2 linked regions of the Homo sapiens genome follow. The protein of the gene in region 1 purifies or fractionates together with the protein of each later gene. This does not show direct contact. Each region holds a gene or a part of one and is shown in the gene's direction. Other genes may lie near its edges. The genes, in order: CYP4X1 and PPFIA1.

Region 1 (3,821 bases):
TGTAGTAAGCTTTGAAATCAGGAAGTATGAGTCCCCCGCACTTTGGTATTTTCCAAGATTATTTTGGCTGTTTGGAATCCTTGAGTTTCTATACAAATTTTAGACTCAGCCTATCAATTTCTACAAGGAAACCAGCTAGGGTTCTGCTTGGGATTGCACTGAATCTGTAGATCAGTTTGGGGATTATTGCCATCTTAAGAATATTAGGTCTTCTGATCCATGAACACAGAAAGCCTTTCCGTTTAGTTAGGTCATCTTTAATTTTTTTTGTTGTTTTTTTTTGTTTTTTGAGACAGAGTCCTGCTCTGTCGCCCAGGCTGGAGTGCAGTGACGCAATCTCGGCTCACTGCAACCTCCGCCTCTCGGATTCAAGCGATTCTCCTGCCTCAGCCTCCCAAGCAGCTGGGACTACAGGCACATGCCACCACACCAACTAATTTTTGTATTTTCAGTAGAGACGGGGTTTCACCATATTGGCCAGGCTAGTCTCGAACTCCTGACCTCGTGATCCACCCGCCTCACCCTCCCAAAGTGCTGGGATTACAGGCGTGAGCCACCACTCCCGGCTTTCTTTAATTTTTTTTAACGATGTTTTTGTATTTTTCAAAGTATACATCTTGCATTTCTTTTGTTAAATTTATTTGTTTTGTTCTTTTTAATTTCATTTCAGACTATTTATTGCATTCATAGTGTTTTAGAGTCCACATTCCCTCTTGACTGTCACTAAGTTTTTTTTTTTCTGTTTTTGAGAGGTTTCTATCAGAATTTTGCAGATCAGAGATGACGGACATGTCAAACTGTCTAATATTACCAACCCTCCCCATTTATCAGATCAGGATCCTTTTGGTGATTCACCATGCAGGGAAATCTAGTATCTAAGGCTCAAAAGGTGATACTGTTTTACATAGGCAGTAACATTTTATTGCTACATAATAACTACATATTTATGGAGTACCTGTGATATTTTGATACGTGCATACAATGTGCAGTGATCAAATCAGGGTGTTTAGGGTATTCATCACTTCTAACATTTATTATTTATTTGTGTTTGGAACATTTCAAGTCTCTTCAAGCTCTTCAGAAATATTCAATACATTATTGTTAACAGTGCTATTGAACACTGGAACTTATTCCTTCTATCTAAAGACAGTAACATTTTAAGTATAGTCATAAGGTTACAGAAGGATAAAGTGTGTATAGGGAAAATTCCCTACAAGATAAGAATTTCATTCCTTACTCTTAGTAATACAGGTCTTCAAACATGCCAAGGATATTCCTCCCTTGGAGCTTTGAACATGCACGTCTGTGGTTATATTGCTCTCCCTGCAAATTATTCCTAAAAGAGGCTTGCCCTGACCATTCAGACTAAAATAGCACCTCTAGTACTCTCTATCTCCAACCCTATTATTATTATCTTGGCCCTTATCACTCTCTGACACTATACTGTATACTCTTTTGCTTGTTCATTTATTATCCACCACTAACTACAATATAAAATCTGTGAGAGGTAGGATCTTTGTTTGCCACTATAAACCTAGTGCATGGTACAGTTCCTGGTGCATAATAGGTGCTCAATAAATCCTTTGTTGAATGCATAAATATATTAGGTGCTGAGAAAATTTATTTATTCAAAGATCAATTTACTGCATAGAATAGGCCAGGTGGTTTGACATTTATTCAATAGCCAACATATGGGACCTAGGATGTACATATGCAAGTGTGTGTGTGTATGTGTGTGTGCATCTGCATGTGTACTTGGATGTACTGCAGAGAACATCTATGTAGCTAAGTAGTATAAAGCACTTGGGCTCCAGAGTTAAACTGGAGTTTGAATCCTCATTAGTGGTTGCCAGCTGTACACACTTGGGCAGATCATTTAACCTAGTCTGTAGGGCTCAATTTCCTCATCTCTAAAGTAGGGATTGTAATCATATCTACTTCATAGGGTTCTTGATGTAAATATTAAATAACATAGAACATGGAAAGCATTTAGCAGCACCTAGTTCATAGCAGTGCTTGATAAATGTTCGCTGTTGCTATTTGGGGGCACTATGCATTTTCTGAACATTTCTGAACAATGTTTACTAAATATATGTAGTACCCGTTTTCAAGTGTATTTAGATGCTTCTCTGGGGATGAAGAAATATAAATTAAATATAGTACAGTATTCACAACAGTTTTCTGTCCTTTTTGTCTAGTCAGGAGTTACAAAAAGTATAATGAAATACTTTCATATGGCTGGGGTGTTTATGAAAATTTTTTACCTAAACAAACAATTGTCATATTAGTTTACAATATTCATGAGGGCAAAGGCCTTGTCTTCCTTATATTTCTCTGTATCTCTACCACCTGGTACGTGTGATAGACAATAAATACTTGTGTGTTTATTGTTTGTAAATGAATAAATGAAAAAATATTCACATTGTTGAAAACCACTACTCTGGATAGTCAGTGGGTGCTTATCACTGGCTTGATTATGGCAACATTAACAAAAAAGTGCAGTATTTTAGAAACTAGGTTTCAAGACTCTCAACCTTTCAGTGGCCTTGAACTATCCAGAGAACACTTTATGGGTTAAAATTGCTAAATGATAACAGAGAAAAATGGGAGCCAGAGTTGTCCACCTCTCCAGAGGATGAGAGCAAACAATCCTGCAGCAGATACCGTGTGATTGGTCACACGAGGAAAAATCTGGCAGCCTTAAGATTACTTTGCAGCGGGGGACTCCCACCATCATGCTCAAGTGTGTAGATGGGCACACCAAAACACACACATGCAGGTGCCCTCCACTTTACACAAGAAGCAAATGTAAATGAATCTTGTTTTCAGTGATTTAGAGAAACAATTTAAGTGAGCCATTACTCATCTGCTTCTAAAAGCAAAAACTCCTTCTCTGGTGGTAGTATTTGCACTCTCATTTGTAAATGTTGGAAGCTGAAAGTTTTGTATTTGAGTTTGCTTTAAGATTCACACATCTGTGTAAATGGACCTTCTGTTGTTGGGGGGAGAATTTGGATTTTCTTTATAGATAGAGTTGGCAATTTTTTAGAGAGAAGCATTTACTGCTAAGTCATGAGAAATAATCACTGGTGCATAATTAGAGAGAGGAACAGGAAGAAGAAATGGTGAGCTGGATGTAGGGTCATGCCCCATTTAGTAACTGTTAGTTTCCCACATAGGAAATACTTCTTTTTAGCTTCCAGATCCCACTCCAATCTGAGTGTGTGATGTTGGCAAGTGAGGCAGAGAGTGTGACTCGGCTCACCCTCTATTGGGACAAGAGTTCACAGTAAATGTCATTCAACAGTGACTTGGTCTGGGGGTACAGGATATATTAATATTGAGAAGATAAATACACTAACTTTGTTTAGAGAATTATCCCCCAAGCTTAGAAGTCCCAAAGAAAGCATGTTATGTCACTTCCAGAAAAGTCTCAGGCTCCTCTGCTTGTGTGACCTTATCAGGTCCTGAACTCAGCTTGTGTCTATAAGAGGGGACAGGTCCAGCTTGGCTGGCTAATTACTTTTACTTTTTTCACTGCAGTTTATTCAGGATGATAACATGGAGAAGCTTGAGGAAATTATTGAAAAATACCCTCGTGCCTTCCCTTTCTGGATTGGGCCCTTTCAGGCATTTTTCTGTATCTATGACCCAGACTATGCAAAGACACTTCTGAGCAGAACAGGTAAGAAGAGGGGGAAAGCTCTGGGACCTATTCCTCCTAGAAGTGAAATGCATAAAACCCATAGGCAAGATTCCAAAGCAAAGATTGGTTTGGGGCCTTTAAGAGACACAGCAGCAAGTATGGGGAGGTGACAGGT
Region 2 (3,821 bases), on another chromosome or scaffold:
ATATATATATTTTTTTTTTTCCAGGCACAGTCTCATTGTGTCTCCCAGGGTCAAGTCCTTAGATACTTGAACTGGATTTAACTCCCTCCTACCTTTTGTGTCATTGTTTTATATATTTCAGTTTAATTTATATTTATTTTTAAAAATAGAGACAGCGTCTTGCTGTATTGCCCCAGCTGGTCTTCAACTCCTGGCCTCAGGTGATCCTCCCCCCTTAGCCTCCCAAAACAATGGGATCCAGGCGTGAGCCACTACACGCTTTTAGCTGCATCTTACAAGTTTATGTACTTTAATTTTAGATATACTTTTGCAGTATCATAATTATTTTGTACAGTTAATGTTTATTTAGATTTATCCTCTTAGTTACCATTTTTGTTGCTCTTCATTCTTTATTGTTGTTTCATGTTTCTGCCGGGGATTATATTTCTTGTTTTTTTTTTTTCTTTTTTTCTTTTTTGAGACAGAGTCTCGCTCTGTTGCCCAGGCTGAAGTGCAGTGGCACGATCTTGGCGCACTGCAACCTCCATCTCCCATGTTTGAGCGATTTTCTTGCCTCAGCCTTCTGAGTAGCTGGGACTATAGGCATATGCCACCACATCCGGCTAATTGTTGTATTTTTAGTAGAGACTGGGTTTCACCATGTTGGCCAGGCTGGTCTCAAGCTCCTGACCTCAAGTGATCTGCCTGCTTCAGCCTCCAAAGTGCTGGGATTACAGATGTGAGCCACTGCGCCCAGCCTATATTTCTTTTCCCTGAAGAACTTTCTACGGTATTTCTTTGAGTTCATATCTGTGGATAATGAATTGTCATTTTTGTTTGCCTGAAAATTTTCTATTTTGCCTTTAGTTTTTGTTTTGTTTTGTTTTGTTTTGTTTTTTAAGATGGAGTCTCGCTCTGTCGCCGGTCTGGAGTGCAGTGATGTGATCTTGGCTCACTGCAACCACCGCCTCCCGGGTTCAAGCAATTCTCCTGCCTCAGCCGCCCGAGTAGCTGGAACTACAAGCACGTGCCACCACGCCCAGCTAATTTTTGTATTTTTAGTAGAGAAGGTGTTTCACCATGTTGGCCAGGATGGTCTCTATCTGTTGACCTGGTGATCTGCCCTCGTCAGCCTCCCAAAGTGCTGGGATTACAGGCGTGAGCCACCATGCCTGGCCTTTTTTTTTTTAAATGTGATGTTTCACCATGTTTGCCAGGCTGGGGTCAAACTCATTGGCTCAAGCAGCTGCCTGCCTCAGCCTCCCAAACTGCTGGGATTACAGGTGTGAGCCACTGTGCCCAATTTGCCTTCAGTTTTGAAGGATGATTTTGCTGGGTATAGAATACTGGGATCGTGGTCATTTCCTTGCACCATTTTGTAGCAGCGAATTCATTGTTTTTTTAGCTCGCTTCCTTTTTCTTGACAAGTCAGCTTTTGGTGTTATTGTTGTCCCATTTGAAGTAATACTTCTTTTTATTTTCCCCTCTGGTTGCTTTTTATTTTTATTTTTTGGAGAGGATATGACTTTTACTGAGTTTATCCACCAGAGTGGAAATAATGTTTGTGCAAAACCAAATGTTTGTTACTATAACTCTCCATCACAATTAAAATCCAAACAGTTTTTTGAAAACAGTCAACTCAATCAAAACCCACTACTTCAGAATCAATAGCTTCTTTGAAGCCACAGTAACAAATATGGTTAAGACTTGAATGTAGAAATTTGTTGGTTGGAAAGCTAATTAAACTTCCAACTTGCTCAAGTAGAATTACAGAAAGGCAGAATTGTGTTTTTCACAGAGATATAGTTCACTGGAATCAGCCACACTGGACAGCTGGTAGAGTGTTTAGGGTCCTGAGATAATAAGGAATCCAGGCAGCCTTTAGACAGTCTGCTGTTGTCCTTTCTTCCCAATTAGAGATTTGTGGATGTGTGGAATGACACCTTTACCAGCAATTGTAGACTTGAAGAGAGAGCCCAATTCTTTATCTCCACGAATGGCAAGTTGCAAGTAATGAGGGGTAGTATGCTTTACTGTGAAGTCTTTTGACGCATTTCTTGCCAGTTCAAGTACCTCTGCGGTGAGGTACTCCAGGATGGCTGTGCTATTCACAGCGGCAGTCGCGCCCACACGTCCAGGACTGATTGTCCTAGATTTCAGGTGTCAGTGAATACGGCCCACCAGGAACTGCAAATTGGCTCTCTTGTGAGTGGGAAGCTGCCTTTGTTGGCCTTTCTGGAGTCCTTCCCAGCCTTACTGCCAGCCATTTTCAATTCTGCTGAAGCTCAAACAGGCAAGGCAGAGAAAGGACTAATCAGACACACAGCAAGATCTCACCATCTACTCATTCCTCACACCAGGATTTGAAGCTGCCTCTGGTGGCTTGTAACATTTTCTTTGCTTCAGGCATTAGCAAAACTTGGTATTTGTTGTATTGGTGGCCTGGTTCCTAATCAATTTTGGAAGTTTTGGCTCTTCTCTCTATAAATATTCCTATTTTCCACTCATCTTCACTCAGAGGGCCTCCATTTTTGTGTACATTAGGCATTTTTTTTTTTTTTGAGATGGAGTTTCGCTATTGTTGCCCAAGTTGGAGTGCAATGGTGTGATATACATTAGGCTTTTATCATGTCCTATGTGTCTCTTGTGCTCCTTTCCGTATTTTCTAGACCTTTTCTGTGTATGTGTCTAGGTGTGTGTGTGTGTGTGTGTGTGTGTGTGTGTGTGTGTGTATTTAGTTTTTAGAGACTGGGTCTCTCTGTTGCCCAGGGTGGTCTTGAACTCTTGGGCTCAAGCAGTCTTCCTGCCTTGGCCTCCTAAACTGTTGGGACTACAGGCGTGAGCCACCGTGTCCGGCCTGTGTGTGTGTGGGGGATGTGTGTGTGTGTATATTTTTGGGACAGGGTCTCGCTCTGTTGCCCAGGCTGTAGTGTAGTGGTGCAGTCTCAGCTCACTGCAGCATCTGCCTTCTGGGCTCAAGCGATCCTCCCACCTCAGCTCCTGAGTAGCAGGGACTACAGGTGCGTGCCACCACACCTGGCTAATTTCTGTATTTTCAGTGGAGGTGGGGTTTTGCCATGTTGCACAGACTGGTCTCAAACTCCTGGACTTAAGTGATCCACTTGCCTCAGTCTCCGAAAGTGTTGGGATTACAGGCATGAGCTAGCATGTGTGTATATATGTGTGTATATATATATACGTACATACATATATATATATAAATATATATGTATATAAAAATTTTTAAGAGACAGGTGGCTGGGTGCAGTGGCTCACGCCTGTAATCCCAGCACTTTGGGAGGCCAAGGTGGGTGAATCACTTGAAGTCAGGAGTTCGAGACCAGCCTGGCCAACATGGTGAAACCCTGTCTCTACTAAAAATACAAAAAATAGCCGGGCATGGTGGCACATGCCTGTAATCCCAGCTACTTGGGAGGCTGAGGCAGGAGACTCACTTGAACCTGGGAGACGGAGGTTGCAGTGAGCCAAGATCACGCCATTGCACTCCAGCCTGGGTGGCAAGAGCGAAACTCCGTCTCGGGGAAAAAGAAAAAGACAGGCACCCTGTTGTTGCCGAGGCTGCAGTGCAGTGGCGCGCGTGATCACTGTTCACTGCAGCCTCAAACTCCAGGGCTCAAGCAATCCTTCTGCCTCAGCCTTCTGAGTAGCTGGGACTATAGGTATGTGCCACTGTGCCCAGCTAATTTTTAAATTTTTTGTAGAGGCAGGGTCTTGCTATTTTGCCCAAGCTGTTCTTAAACTCCTGACCTCAAGTGAGCCTCCTACCTTGACATGTCAAAGCACTGGGATTACAGGTGTGAGCTATTGTGCCCAAAATCTAA

The links.
Region 2: the proteins of CYP4X1 (region 1) and PPFIA1 purify together in Homo sapiens (affinity purification with mass spectrometry; 3 studies listed by BioGRID and IntAct, with this or other methods). This does not show direct contact.

What each region holds. Positions count from the first base shown.
Region 1 is NC_000001.11:47,026,447-47,030,267, forward strand, and holds part of CYP4X1 (cytochrome P450 4X1), read left to right. Parts: intron 1-3,543; coding exon 3,544-3,685; intron 3,686-3,821. UniProt on the Homo sapiens protein: A cytochrome P450 monooxygenase that selectively catalyzes the epoxidation of the last double bond of the arachidonoyl moiety of anandamide, potentially modulating endocannabinoid signaling.
Region 2 is NC_000011.10:70,277,052-70,280,872, forward strand, and holds part of PPFIA1 (liprin-alpha-1), read left to right. Parts: intron 1-1,563; exon of another isoform or gene 1,564-2,352; intron 2,353-3,821. UniProt on the Homo sapiens protein: May regulate the disassembly of focal adhesions. May localize receptor-like tyrosine phosphatases type 2A at specific sites on the plasma membrane, possibly regulating their interaction with the extracellular environment and their association with substrates.